2 separate regions of the Homo sapiens genome follow, and region 1 is reported to be linked to region 2. The links are microRNA targets in miRTarBase. Many come from high-throughput screens and were not tested one by one. Region 2 holds a microRNA gene; the other region holds the end of a gene's coding sequence.

The links. The annotated mature microRNA hsa-miR-3166 reads CGCAGACAAUGCCUACUGGCCUA and lies in region 2 at 4,547-4,569, opposite strand. An mRNA with a match to its seed (bases 2 to 7 or 8) in the 3' UTR can be bound and repressed. Matches are read on the target gene's strand: a 7mer-m8 pairs with bases 2 to 8, a 7mer-A1 pairs with bases 2 to 7 and ends in A, and an 8mer does both.
Region 1: miRTarBase lists PLXNA4 as a target of hsa-miR-3166. Seed matches in the 3' UTR shown: 7mer-m8 at 4,796-4,802.

Annotation. Positions count from the first base shown.
Region 1 is chr7:132,123,813-132,130,932 of GRCh38, forward strand. It overlaps PLXNA4 (plexin A4), which reads right to left. Exons shown (of 32, transcript NM_020911.2): 32 at 1-6,762. The coding sequence ends at 6,667. Among named protein-coding and RNA genes, the nearest start is that of PLXNA4-AS2, 130 kb to the right of the region's middle.
Region 2 is chr11:88,174,010-88,181,129 of GRCh38, reverse strand. It overlaps MIR3166 (microRNA 3166), which reads right to left and starts at 4,628; the gene lies at 4,537-4,628. RAB38 (RAB38, member RAS oncogene family) reads left to right here and starts at 5,687. Exons shown (of 3, transcript NM_022337.3): 1 at 5,687-5,947. The coding sequence starts at 5,746.

The DNA of each region.
Region 1 (7,120 bases), not on the chromosome of region 2:
CGGTTCCTTAAACCACCCTTCCATCCTGTTTCTCCCCTTCTCTAGCATTTGAAGCTCAACTCTGGGTCCTCTGGCTGGGCCAAAACCCCTGCATCATCCCCACACGTCGGCTCGCTGAGCCATTGTCTGTTGTGGTACCCTGGAGTTGCTGGTTGCTATGGTAACTCAGCAGGACCCTGCTGGAAGAGATGGGCTGGCCCCTACATGCTAAAGTGGGGAGGAGGGCAGTGGCATCCAATCCTTCCTTCCCACCTCAGGGCCTGGAGGCCTTGTTCCTGCTCAAAGCAGCCAACACACGACTAAGCAAAGACCGTATGTCTCAAGGACACCAGGCCAAGGTAGGGAGTGGTGAGGGGAGGGCTGTCCATTCTAAAACACAAAATCGTTGGTTTCCGAATGGAAACAAGATTCTTTGAGGTAAGCTAGCTTTTCATTTTAAGAACAGAAGGTTTAACAAGTCAACAAGCTAACTAGAACGTCGGGGAGGGAGAGGAAAGGAGGACAGACAGATGAGCACGTGTATCCCATCTTCGTCCTGTGCCTGGATTGCGGCTGACTTCTGTGCACGAAAGTGTTCCTTAGTCCTGTTTGGTGAAGTGGTCTCGGTTTCTTAAGCGTCCTTTGGGTTGCTCTTTAACTGTATCCTCTGTTTTAAATTCTACTTTTGTAAGGGAGCCCTTCCAAAATGTGCTTGAGTCAAAAGATCAAAGATACTAACAAAGGAAGTTCTAATTCCAAATAAAGAAATTGCTGGAAGAAGAGCTGCATAGACCAAGTCTACTTGCTTTTGCAATCCTGGCGGAGGGAAAGCTTGGGTCTTCCCATGACCCATCCCTCACAGAGCCTCCTTAAAGTTTGAGGAAAGCTGATAAGAGATGTGTAGGATTCGGCAGTACCAGGGGCAGCCCAGAGAGCCAAGCATAGACATCAAAGCGGGTGGGAATGGAATAAAGTGAGGCTCCCGCAACCCAGGATTTTCAGCCTACCTGAATCACCTCACTACCTCTGCCAATACAAACAGAAAGTTCTTTTTGTATATGAAGGATTTTGTTTCGTTTTGTTTAACTTTGCTTTGCTTTCTGGTAGGCACCAGTCTACTCAAGGAATTTAATCGGGATCCTAATGAGTATGTATTTCTCTTACAACCAAAAAATTCTATATACTTTTAAAACTTGGATACTCCCTCTAATAAAATAATTTTATGGGGGAGCAAAAATTTGTAGTAAAAAAAAAAAAACTCTCTCTTGCATGTCTGAAACTTTTACTGCAGTGGATTACTTTCCAAATGAGAGGAGTGGTCATTTAGGTTTCCTGTCAAGAGCATGCCACCCTTAGCACCATGAGGAGAGGTTTGCAGAGTGTCCCAGCCTCATTCGGGAGCTGTGTCAGTGTTACCTGAGGCTGTGTCTCAGCTCCCCACTCTATAAAATAAGGCTCTTGTTTCCTACATAGAGAATGCCTGTAGGGTGAGGTGGCAGGAGGCGGTAGGAGAAGGACTCCATCTGTCAAAAGTGTGGGGAAGCACCAGGAATAGCAGCAGCCATGTGAGATGCCACCCCTAGCATTGTCCTCATCCAGGGAATGTCCTGACCCATTTTTTTTTTTCAATGGGGGAGGCTCCTCCTGTCCTCTGAACCTCTCCTCATCCCCTTGGAAGTCATAGGTTTTGCTCCCACTAACCGAGTAATTTGGACTTAACATCCATAGCAGGGCTCCCTTCTTACTTTCGAACTATTAAGATATACAAACAAAAACCAAACAACTCCAAAATCCCAAATAAATGGCCCACAGTTTTGTTTTGTTTTGTTTTTTTTAAAGGAAGAGGCTGAGGGTTCAAGGCCTCCCAGTCACCTGTCCTGAGAGCTGGCAGGAAGAGGGGAAGAGGCCCTTGATGTAGACGAGGACCAGGAGGGATGGCGGGGGGGGATTTGGGGCATGGGGAGAAGCCAGGGCACGGAGCTGCCTGGGGTAGGTCTTCTCTGGGGGTCAGGTGAGCTCCTGGAGGTGACTCAGTCATGGAAAGACCCCTTGAAGGCCTTGAAGAGCTGGCTGGGGCTGCTCACTGGGCTCACTGTTCCTGGAAGGAGCAGGGGAAGTTCCCGGAGAGGGGCTTCTCTGGGCCTTGTGCCTGCAGAGCACCTTCCTACCTATGTCTGTCTGTCTTTCCCTCACTGCTTGGCTGTCTGTGAGGTGGGAGGTTTGTCCTTGACTGATAACAATACTGGCCCTTTGCTCGGTTAAGTATTTGACTTCACATTACTGTGTCCCCTTGGTCCTGGGAAAGAAGACAGATGGAAATTGAGCTTTTCTTTTTAGGTCACAGAGGGTGGTGCTGAGACCTGGGCCCATCACAGCATCGTTCACGGCTCTGGAAACAGTGGTAAGGATTCTTCTTGCAGTGGAGGTCATTTGGGAAGTCATTGCTTGTGGATCCTCGGATGGGGACCCATAGGGCCTTGGCTAGACGAGGGAGCTCCTACAGCCAGGAAGGCAGCTTTGGGTGGGGTAGGATGGGGCTGGGGCAGTCACAGAGGGCTGGGCTGAGAGGTCTGAGCAGCTCCTGTACTCAAGTGGATAAATCGCCCTGGGACAGAGGCTATGTGTGCAGGAGAGACACGGTGGAATGAGGAGGGACAGGGAGGATGCTCGTGGCAGGAGGAGCACAGGCAGAAGCCAGACATGCAACGGGAGACACGGTACCAGGGACCTGGTTGCATGGGGGAGGTGGAGATGCTGGGCCAGTACATCAACCTTCACTGCTGGTGGGCGCAGGTAGCTGGGCCTGAGGGGACCAGGTCAGAGACTTTTCCTGTGGGTAACTCCTGCTTCTTCCTGGGAACAGTCCTGGACAGTCTGCCTCAAACTTTGGGATTTATTTAAAATAACTTCTCTTTCACTTGTAGCTCCTCACAAGCAGCCAAGCTCACTTACCAGGCTGCGGGTGCACAAGGGGTAGGCTTTAGGGGCTGGCTTTGGGTGCAGGGATCATGCTGCCATTGGAATGTACCTTGGCCTGTGGGACACTTGGGTTATCCACTGTTCCCAAATTTAAAACCATACTGAAAGAAGAAGGCAAGAAAATATTTTCCTGAGGAAGTAACTGGCATGATGGCCACCTTCACTTAGTGGCACTATTTGCAGCTACCAAGAAATGTCAGGGTCTCTCCTTATGGGGAAGGACAAAGAATGGGTAAAAGCTGCATCTGGGGGGACTTGTGGCCAGGAGAAATGACCAGCCTACCACTCTGTTTCTTGTCTTCCTCTACTTATTCCTTAAAATTTAGGACCCCACAAAGCCCCCTTCTTCCCTGCTACCTTAAGCCCTTCTCTCTCCAACATGCAAAAAAAATTCCCACCTAAACTTTGTCAGTGATTTTGATGGCTCAGTCTGGTACCATTTTCCCTGGGAGGGTACGGGATAAGTTGGAGGGGAAGGTAAGGAAGATGGCCTTTTCTCTCCTTCTGTCTGCTCATGACTCAACATAATGGTGACCCTACAAATTAACTTTGCCTCGAGGGAGGCCGTGAAGGGGCCTCCATCCCACAGGACAAAGTTGGCCCAATTCCTTTCTCTGGGAGCCCGCAAGCCACATGGACAGCCCCTGGATGTTTGCTCTGCCAGTGGGGTAAGGAAGATCCCTGGGGGAGTTTGGAAAAAAGATTTGGGTGGGGGATGGGGGGCAAGGACAGCTTTTTGACAATGTTGCTTGTCTTTGCTTTTAAATACCATATCACACGTGCACCAAGAATCCAAACGGAAGAAATGGAAAACAAACAGCAGAAGATAATTTTTATAAGCAAGATGGGCTGTGGCTCTGGATACCTGGCTCAAATTTCTCAGTCCCCAAGCAGGCCACGGGGACTGCAGCAAACAGAGCGGCAGAAACAACCCACCCACCAATTAAAGTCAAACCAGCCCCAAACCCCTCCCCCAGGAGAAATGGGGACAGCCAGAAAATTTGTCTGTCCTTGTCTCCTCTTTCTTCCTAACCTTTCTATTTCTCTGAGGTGTTTGAAATTTTTCTTATAACAAAAACATGGAATAAAATAAAGTCCTGTACCGCCAAAGTAACAATAACAATAATCATCATCCAGTAAAAAATAAAAGCTTCAGCAGAACCGTGATAAGTCTTTTTTCTTTTTTTTTTCTGCTTGTTTGATTTTTTCTCTTAACTGTGCAAAAAAAAAAAAAAAAAATCAAAATGCACTCACTCATACACACGTTCACACACGCAGCTTCCATCCAGCAAATCTGTGTTAAATACGTTTGTGTCTCTTTCCTCCCCAACCCTTTATATGTGCAAAAATATTGTAGTGACCGAGGTACTTCCTCAGACCGTCTCCCACATGTACCCTTTCTGGCCTTCCAGGTCCTGTGACTGACTTCTTGGGAGGGAATAAAATGATCAAGGATAGAAAAGTCAAGCTTCTCCACCTGGTACTGCACTTGCCAAAACCTTTGGTTATTTATTTTTTTTCTTCCTCTTCCAATGCATTGTTTCCCATTTTCCTCTTCCCATTAGGTTGCTCATGTCTTTTCCACCATCTGTCCTCTGCGATGTCACATGATGCCCTGTTCCAAGGTCCAGGCCTCGGCAGGCGACCACCCTGATTTCCTATGGACAAGCGCCCTCTCCTTCCACCCACCAGCTCTCAGCATAGAAAGCAAGTAAGTGTTGAAATGTCCTGAAGCTGCAGGATGAATGGATGAGCAAGGGGAAAGAGAAGGGGAACACTTCAAAAATCCTCCTACAAAGGACAAGAAATCCTTTTGAGCTTTCCGCCTACACCTGGGGCAGACACACACACACACATACATGTGCTCACACACATGTGCACATATTCATATCCAAAGGGGCAAGTGTTCTTAAAAGTACCGGATGCTCCATGGACTTTGCTGGAAATGGTGTGGTTTCTTCCCCAAGGGGGGCTCATTCTGAGTGGGTGACAAGGAATGATGTCTGATGTTTGGGGAGTGAAGGCAAGACTGTGAATCCTTCTCCTCAACCTCACCTAAGATGTTTCTCCTTGTCTCCCATAGTGGTGAACAACTCCAGAGCAGAGGTGCCAACAGAGACTCCTGCTTAGGATGGGAGACTGCACCAGACAGCACCTAAGGTCTCCTTAGGATGAAAGGTTCCTAGAACCCTCCATTAGACCATCTCTCCCCATAGCCTCTGCTTACCTAGTATCAATTTCTAGGCACACATTTGCCTGCCTGGCTAAAATCGTGCATCTGTAGATGTAAGAACAGATGGGGAGATGGATGCCAAGGCCAAGGTCATTTGTATGTCCCTCTTCTTAATTCCAGCCAGGCCCATCAGCTCGACTCTTTGTCCCTCCCAGATCTGACAAGCTGGAGGCTGAGGTTGGCTGGCATTTTGGGCTGTCTCCGTGAGGCTTTGCTTAAGTCTGTTTCTTTCAAGGATGACTGCTGAAGAGATGAGGAAGGAGAATGATGAGAGACAGCTGAGATGTTGATGAAATCATTCCCAAAGAGGTCTGGACAGCCCAGTGACAAAGTCATCTGCATAGCAATGGCACCGGATTCTGCAGAGGGAACAGGGACTAGGCTGTTGGCCCCAGCCGTCTATGGAGTTCTCAGGAAGGATGATGGGGATGGAGCCATGGAGATGGCTGGAGGTAGAATCTCCTAGATGCACTCTGCATTTCACGTTGACCCTTGATGAAGGTTGACAAAGGAGGGTGGAGATAGATGCTTTCTCTTGACAGCACTCAGGGCTCTGGTAGTGGACTAGACCTATGACTATGATTGTGACTCATTTGAATTTGAGGGTAAATGGAAAACAAATTCTGCTTCCAGGGTAGATGCAACTCTCTTTCCTTTTCTCCCCCTGTGTTACATTTCTGCTACTAGGATTCAGATGAAAAGGTCAGGAGCATCTCCATGGTGGAATGTAATTGCTATTCTTTCTCCTGCCTGGCTTTCTACTGGCGGGGGAGCAGGCAGGGCAGGCAGGTCCCTCTGGAGACCTGGAAAAGGACAGGAAGCCTCTGGACACCAGCCCAGTGGGGGAGAAGGAGCCTCAAGGAGCACCTCCCAGCTGCCCACACATGCCCTGCTCCAGCCACATGCAGGAGGTGTAGCCTTTCTTCTCACAGCTGCAAAGCGATCAGACCACTGGCTGAACCACTGGAGATGGAACTGTGGGAAGGGAGAGCCAGGTGATGTCTTCCCAGTAAAGATAATACTGAAGTCCTTCCTTGCCTCTTCCCTAGGCCAAGGCTCAGACCAAAGCAGGGGCTGCCAAAGTGGAAGGTGAAGTAGCAGCACAGAAATGTCCCCTGTCCCTGGCTCCTCATTCGTTATTTGCACCCTGCTGCTGACATGCACAGGGTCAGGAGCACCTGGGAGACAGAGGCCTCTCTGACATCTTCTGGTCAGCTCCCTTGCCATGGGCCTGGCCATTCTTGGACTAACTGAGGGTCAGTGGCTTGGTCCAATCGTGTTGGCAGAGCAACTGGAAGAGAAGAGATCCAGGAAGGAGGGAGAAACGGAAAGAGGCAGAGAGAAAGAGAGAGAAACAGCGCTGCTCAGGGGATGCTGCTGATGCCAGTCGGAACTTGCACTTGGTAAAGATGATAATCTAGACTGAGGCACGGCTTGGTGTGTCCCCCTCCAGGGCGGCCCTGGAAGGACGGTTCTCAGCTGTCTAAGCTCATGAGGGTTATGACTTGTTCTAGTTTGTAGGCCAGTTTCTGCTTCCCACACTGGTCATCGTGGTCCAGAGGTCCAAGGATCTGCGGAAGGGCCAAGAACAGGGAGATTACTCATTTGTGTGTACAGGTCTGTGTTCTCAGGAGGCACAAAGATGGTGTGGATGTGGTCAGAAGCCCGGGAAGCCACAGGCATGTGCAGGGGCACACAGGACACTGCGGGGTAGGAGGAGACCTGGGGAGCATGGGCAGGAAGTTGTGGCAGGCATAGCATGTGAGCATCAGCATGGCAGTGAGCACAGGATGCCAGCACACACAGTCATGTCTGAATGACTGTGTGCATTCTACTGGCTACAAAAGATGGTAGACAGAGGGCAGAAGCTCTGCTGAAAGTGCCTGTGCCGAGATGCTGCAGTTACCTGCAGGTTAGACAGCAGCTAGT
Region 2 (7,120 bases):
ATATGCTCTCTATGTGCACTGGGTCAGACCTCTCCCCACAAATGCACAGCATGCCACTTTTACTTGTGTTGACTTTCTGCCCGAGTTGGTGAGAGATTATGGGATATATCCTTTTATCTTTGAATCATAGATTTTTCTTTTCTTCCTTTATTGGCTGTTTCCCTGCATAGTTAAGACTTTATCAAATGGAAATAGAATCAATCTCTTTTCTTTATAGCCTGAATATTTAGTAGCATAGCAGAAACAAAGCTACAGTAGAAGCCTGGACCTGGAATTTATCACATGCTAAAGGAGTGTGGTATAGTAGAAAAAGCACAGATTTAGGAATTACTGGTTACGATTCTCATGCTGTCACTCCATATCTGTGACTTTGGAAAAATTATTTAAATTCTTTGAGCCCTATTTCCCTCATTATAAAGTGAAGATACTTGCTACAGAGTGGTCGTGAAGATCAAATAAACTTACCAAGATAAAGGGCTTAGCTCATTGTAGGTTCCCAGGATAAGGAAGTTGAAATTCTAGTACATACAGAATCATTTTTCTCCATGTTCTCAGATGCTTGCCTTTCGGCCATTCCATAGCTTATTTCCACTCATCCATGTTAGATGTGTTAGTAGAAAAATACACCCCGATTCAGCCATGCCTGTCTGGCACAGCTAAGGCACATAATTTTAGTTGGTGATAAATACACTGCTGAAAATGGTTTAGGTCATACTCTGGTTTTCTTGATTCATACTACTGGTGGGTTAAAAAATGCACTTACAATCAGTTTCTCATGATAACCCGTAAATATCCTATTGTAGTCTTTTTTTTTCTGGAAAAAAATCTAGCCAGAAATTTCTCATAGACTGAAGAGTATTTATTTCAAGAACATCCCATACAGAATCCATCTTGGCCTCTCTCCAAATAACCCAAAAGTTGCTTCCTACTTCTAGACATCTGCTGCAATCCTGAATCAATACTAGATGACTCAAATTGCAAGTTAGCACAGGTTTCAGACAAGCCTAGTGGGTAAAGAGAGAACTTTTTGAAGACAAGAAAGAAATAAGCTGCAACTTTAACTTGGCAGACCTATTTATTAAAATTGTGGTTTAGGAGAATTTTCCAAAGCCCCTATAGCTGTAGATCTCATTTGAGAGCCTCAACTTCTCCCTCTTCTTTAGGAATGAATATTCTTTAGGAAAGTCCTGGCTTGTTCCTGTTGTTTGGTGTAATTATTCATAGTGCCCCCTTTCACTCTCAAGAGTCATAGTTTGAATGATAAAATATATGGTCATTTCTTCCAGGCCTTTTGCAGAGTAAAATTCATCTGTTGTAAGATATATTTCTTGTATTAATCTAAGAAAAATTAGATTACCTTTTCTATAACAGAGCCCTTGGGACCCCATCTTGCAGTCATTTACATATTTCTTCAGAGCAATAATTAAAAGCTCACATAAGCTAATGAATAACTCCCCATGGCTCTCTTAATGGCAAAAGCAAATAATGTGACTTCACAGGGGCTCACCAAACACAGCAGCTCTAGGAGGAAAACATGAGGGTTTGTCCCTTCAAGTTTACATTTGCAAAGCAATTTGCAATCATTGTAGTTTTTCCATTTCATAAGACTAAGTACCCACATTGGACAGAAAGGGAATGGAGACTAAGAGAAACCTAATGCTGTGCCTTCTGGGATATCATTCTTGGCTTGAATTCTGAGCACTTTGTGGTCTCACACACCTTTTACAAACTTGAGTCATCAGCCTTCCCGACCTTGGTGAGAAGATGTGCTGTGGTTTAGCAATTTGAGGGTAGTAAGCTTGTCAAAACATCACCAGAGATGTTTTGAGAATTACTGTGGAGAACAGGTTTCCATGGTGCAGTGTGGCTGCTGGGAGGGGGACGAATGGCACAGCTGTTCTCTCCATGGGGAGGAAGCACTGGATCTTTTGTGTCAGAAAAAGCTGAGATCCTCCTGATAATCCTAAGCCATCTTGACAGGTATATGTTCAGGTTGGGGAAGATAGGTTCTGAAGAAGCATCATAATTGCAGGGGACAGGGTTGAATGAAAGAGGAGGCAAGAATGGTCTAGCTGCTTGATAATATCCTTTCCATCTATTCACTGTCTGGCTTGATCCAGTTTATAGTTTGTCCCTGGCTACCTGGCTCCCTGTCTGCAGCCTAGTTCTGAGTGTAGAAAATAAGTTCAAAGCAAGGAAGGGGAGTACATGAAGGTTTGTCCTCCAAAAAGAATGTTCTTGGATTGCCTTTGTCTTGTGGGAAAATGTACAGCAGCAGAGGAAAGAATAGCACCATGAAACCAGAGGAGAACTATGGCATCATGTTTGCTTTGAGATGGCCTTTCTTCCAAACCTAAAAGAGGAGAGAAAACATCACCTCTTTGGCAGTGGTGCTCTTGTGGGGTGACTAGAATCAGCTAGGGTGTCACTCCTACTAGACAATGTCTAGAAGACCCAGAATTCTGATATTTTAGAGTCCAAAGGACTTTCCAGAGATCTTGCAACCTAACTCCCTCATTTTACCCAAGGGACTTTCAGGTTCAGAGACCTAGGCGCCTTTTACGAAGATTTTACTGAACTGCTAGGCTGGGGTGCTTACCAAGCTACTGTAATCTAAAAGTCTTAAAAATATAAACCGAGAGTAATTTCTTCCCACTGTGAAGAATGATCATGAGACCTAAATGAGTACGGCTGGAAACAAAACTGCACATACTTCCTGCCTGGCCAAGGAACTTGCTCACCATGGTTGGCTGCTGTCCCTGAGAGAGGAATCTCCTACCCCCAGAGAGGCAATAAAACTGAAGCTTCAGGACCCCTTCCAAGGCCCTAGACCTAATTATATATTTTTGATTTTGCATTCTTTTGCTCAAAAAGCTACTTCCTCCAATTTTATCAGCTTCAGGACCAGAAATCCTGAACTTTGCCCTGCCTGTCCTACCTCATAAATCCAAATGTCTGATGTTCCAATATGCTCTTGCTCAAAAGAGAACAGATAAGGGTGAGGATGACTCTGCCGGGACCAGGCTTGGGAAAACAGTACGGGGCTGGTAAGAAAGTTGGGTTGGGTATAATTTTGAAGGCTGGCCCACAAGATGTCTCAAACTCCTACCTTGTTTCTACCCCAGGAGCTTGTTGGCCAGACAAAGCCTGTCTCTCAGATTTACAGACCCAGGATTTTAGAGCTGGCAAAGGTCTCATTTTGTCATCCTCCCTAATTTTGCAGGCATTTAGAATGGCTTAAGCATCTTGGGCTACTGAATTCCCCTCCCTGGGAAGTGAGGTGACATTGTTGGCTAATTCTTTAAGCAGGTAGAGTATTTGTCTCACTTGTTAGATGTGATCTTCTTGGTGTGTCCTCGCATGGGTGGAAACCAGTAAATGAGGCCTACCCAGCTAAGCACTTCAATAAAACACAAACGACTGCAATTCTACACACTGTCACTTAGTGTCCATTCTGAGCAAAACTTCTGAGTTACTCTCTGAGGAAAGATGAAACTGCACAGGACAGTGCCTGTGGACAGTATTTTAAGCTTGTCCCTCATTTCATAGTAATAGCTACAATTTATTTACCACCTACTATGGACCCAGCATTTTATCAACAATTTCATTTGTATTTATTTATTTATTTATTTATTTATTTATTTAGAGATAGAGTCTTGCTCAGGTTACCCAGGCTGGAGAGCAATGGTGTGATCTTGGCTCACTGCAACCTCTGCATCCCTGGTTCAAGATAGTCTCCTGTCTCAGCCTCTCAAGTAGCTGGGATTATAGTCACCTGCCACCACGCCCGGCTAATTTTTGTATTTTTAGTAGAGACGGGTTTCACCATGTTGGCCAGGCTGGTCTTGAACTCCTGACCTCAAGTGATTCACCCACCTCAGCCTCCCAAAGTGCTTGGATTACAATCATGAGCAACCATGCCCTGCCATAGGTATTATCATTCTCCTTTCGTTGATGTGGAAACCAAGGCTCAGAGGTTATGTGACTTGTCCCGGGTACACATCTTCAGCATCCCTCTGCTTGTTTGGGGCATGTGGAGGCTAAAGTTTAGGGAGTGTCAGGCCAGAAGAGGAAGGCAGAAAGACAATGGCCTTGCCAAACCTCCTTTCTCCCTTTCACACAGGCCTGTGTTTAAGTCCTAGTTCTAACACATACTAGTTATGTGTGCCCTTGAGAAAGCTGCTGTTAATCTTGGTTTCCTTATTTATAAATTGAAGAAAATAACCCACTTCATAAAGCAATTGAGAAGATGAAATGATAGAATGTGAGCAGAGCTCCTTCACAGCACATTCAGGTACAAAATAGCTCATTTTGGTATAAACTGCTCACCCCCTAGCCCTGAATGCCCAATTTCTCATTTTCTTTATGTCTTTACTAAATTGTCTCCATCTTACTGAAACCTTCCCTGGCCACCCTATCTAAAAGGCAAACCCCATATAATCTCTTCACATCCCCTTTCTGCCTTATTTTATTACCAATTAATATATGACAAATTGTATTTATTTTGTCTTGTCCTGTCTCCACCCACAAGAAGGTAAATTTTTCTTAGGCCAGTAGGCATTGTCTGCGTTAGGAGGATGATACAGAAATCCTAACGCAGACAATGCCTACTGGCCTCAAAAAAATTTACCTTCTTGTAGGTGGAGACAGACAAGACAAAATAAGTACAATTTGTCATATATTAATTGGTAATAAAATGTATATTGGTCAAATGAATGAAAACAAACAACAAAAACAACAAAAAGAAGTTGGGAACCTAAAGACCTATGTTTGAATTTGGTTTTTTTCCTTACTATTTGACTCTGGGTCCATTACTTAAAATGTCTGGTCCTTAGCTTCCTCATTTGTAAAATAGGAAGAAAAATGGTATCTATTATTAAGACAGCTGGGATGACTAAATGACATAATTTATAAACCCTCTGGCATATAGCGAGTGCTCAATAAATGTTTGCCATTATTATTATTTGTAATAATCTGACCGATTGTTAAAACTGTCTTTCTGTGCAGCTCTGAGTTTTTAGGATATGGGAAGAGGCTAAAAGTCACCAGTGCCCTTGGCATTTTCGGCCCAGTTGTCCTCCTTGTTAACTGATTACCAGTTGAATGGGTGTGAAAGTGCTCAGTGTTCCCACCTCCAAGCTGCTCAGAGGTCAGCATTGCCATTCATTGAGAAATAACAGGCTGTGAGAGCTCAAATGACTTACTTATGGTCCCTCAACTTAAAAACCAGGGCACGCAGGAACCAAGCCCAGCCAGTCTTGGGCTTCCTAATACTGTAATTTCTCTCTACAGTGTGGGGTAGTTAAGAGCCTGTGACTTCAGACCTGTGGTCAACGGGGCCTTTCACCGGCCATCTCCCGCAGAGTACTTTTTCACAATCAGTTTTCTCGCAAGCAAAACGTGGAAAATAAGATCCACACCTCACAAGTTTGTGGCCAGGGTCACAGGTGAAAACAGCTCTTCGGAAACTCTAAAGCGCCGGATAAATAAGCGCTGCAACAGGCAACCACACGCGAACCCCTTTCAGCTGCCAGTCCCGGGACTCGCTCCTGTCTCCTCCCCTCTCCAAGACCGCGGAGTAGGAAGGAGGATTAACCCCTAGGGGAGGAGTTCCGCCCCCCAGCCCCCGCCCCGCCGCCCACGCCTCTCTCTGCACCTACACTTGCGCTCCCCAAGTCTCTCTCGTGCGCAGAGCCCAGGCTGCGCTTCCCTGGTCAGGCACGGCACGTCTGGCCGGCCGCCAGGATGCAGGCCCCGCACAAGGAGCACCTGTACAAGTTGCTGGTGATTGGCGACCTGGGCGTGGGGAAGACCAGTATCATCAAGCGCTACGTGCACCAGAACTTCTCTTCGCACTACCGGGCCACAATCGGCGTGGACTTCGCGCTCAAGGTGCTCCACTGGGACCCGGAGACTGTGGTGCGCCTGCAGCTCTGGGATATCGCAGGTGAGCGCGGGGGGAGGGGGTCAGGGGGATAGAGCGCCTCGCGGCCGGTTTCCAGTCTCGAGGCAGCGGCTTGCGGCCAAGCGTGAGATTAAAATCACTAGGTCGCGAGGCAGTTTTTCCTGGTGGGCTGGAAACTTAGTTTCAAAGAAAAGAAAAACGTCTGAAACTTCAAGTGCATTCCCTGGCGCTTTTGGGCTATTGCTTTAGCTCCTTCCCGCACAGTCCCCTGGGATCTCTCTGCCCAGAGCAGGCCTCCCCAGGGAACCAGAGGAAGATTGTCTGCAATTGCATTCTGTTCTCCACTCCAGCTCGTTTTCTGGGCGCGGGCAGTTCTGCCAATGACGCAGCCCAGTGTCACGCACGTCCTTCCGTGCAGGGGCGGACCGAGGGGAAGCCCCTAGGCTGGTTCACAGAGGAAACCGGGATAGTTCCAGGCTAGCTGGAGTTTGCCCATTCCTGTCTTCAGTGGCTCACTTTATTTCAAATTTTGTCACCTTTCTCTCTGCCCTTAAGACAAAGGAGTTTGAGGGTTTTTGTTTTGTTTTTTTTTTTTTTTTTTTTTGCTTTTTGCTTACAGTAAGCCAAGTACTTTTGTGTGTATATGTCAGGGGCAAAGTATTCTTTCTCCCTCTCTTTCTGTATTTCTATCTCTCTGGCTCTCTGTCTTCTATGAAAAGGAGGTTGTGTGTATATTTTAAGGCCATTTTTATGTAAGGGCCTATGATAGCCTTATGATTTCTTGATTTGGCCCTAAAGTTTTCATTGAGAGATCTGAAAAATGAGAGGTTGTTTGTTTTTGTTTTTTACAATATTTAAAATCAGATTTTGACTCCACAGGTTTGTACCAGAAGTTAGGCCTAGTCAAAAGTGAGGGTGCAATGTATCTACTCCAAGTGTGAATCCTTGGACAAGGCTGTTTGCAACCTGCGCATGACCAACCCCTCATTACAGATTTTAGCCCTGCCACTAACTAACCTGCTCAGTGGCTTTGGACAAGTCTCTTCAGCTCAGTTGCATCGCTGTTAAGTGGAAAGGAGTTGGGCAAGGGTCAAGGATCTTCCTGCTCAGAAGTTTTAAAGTCCTCTGGGATTCTCCATGGGAACAACTTCAAACAGTCTTATTTCATGGTCTGTGACACCAGGAACCTTTCGTTATAAGTGCTGGACCCAAACT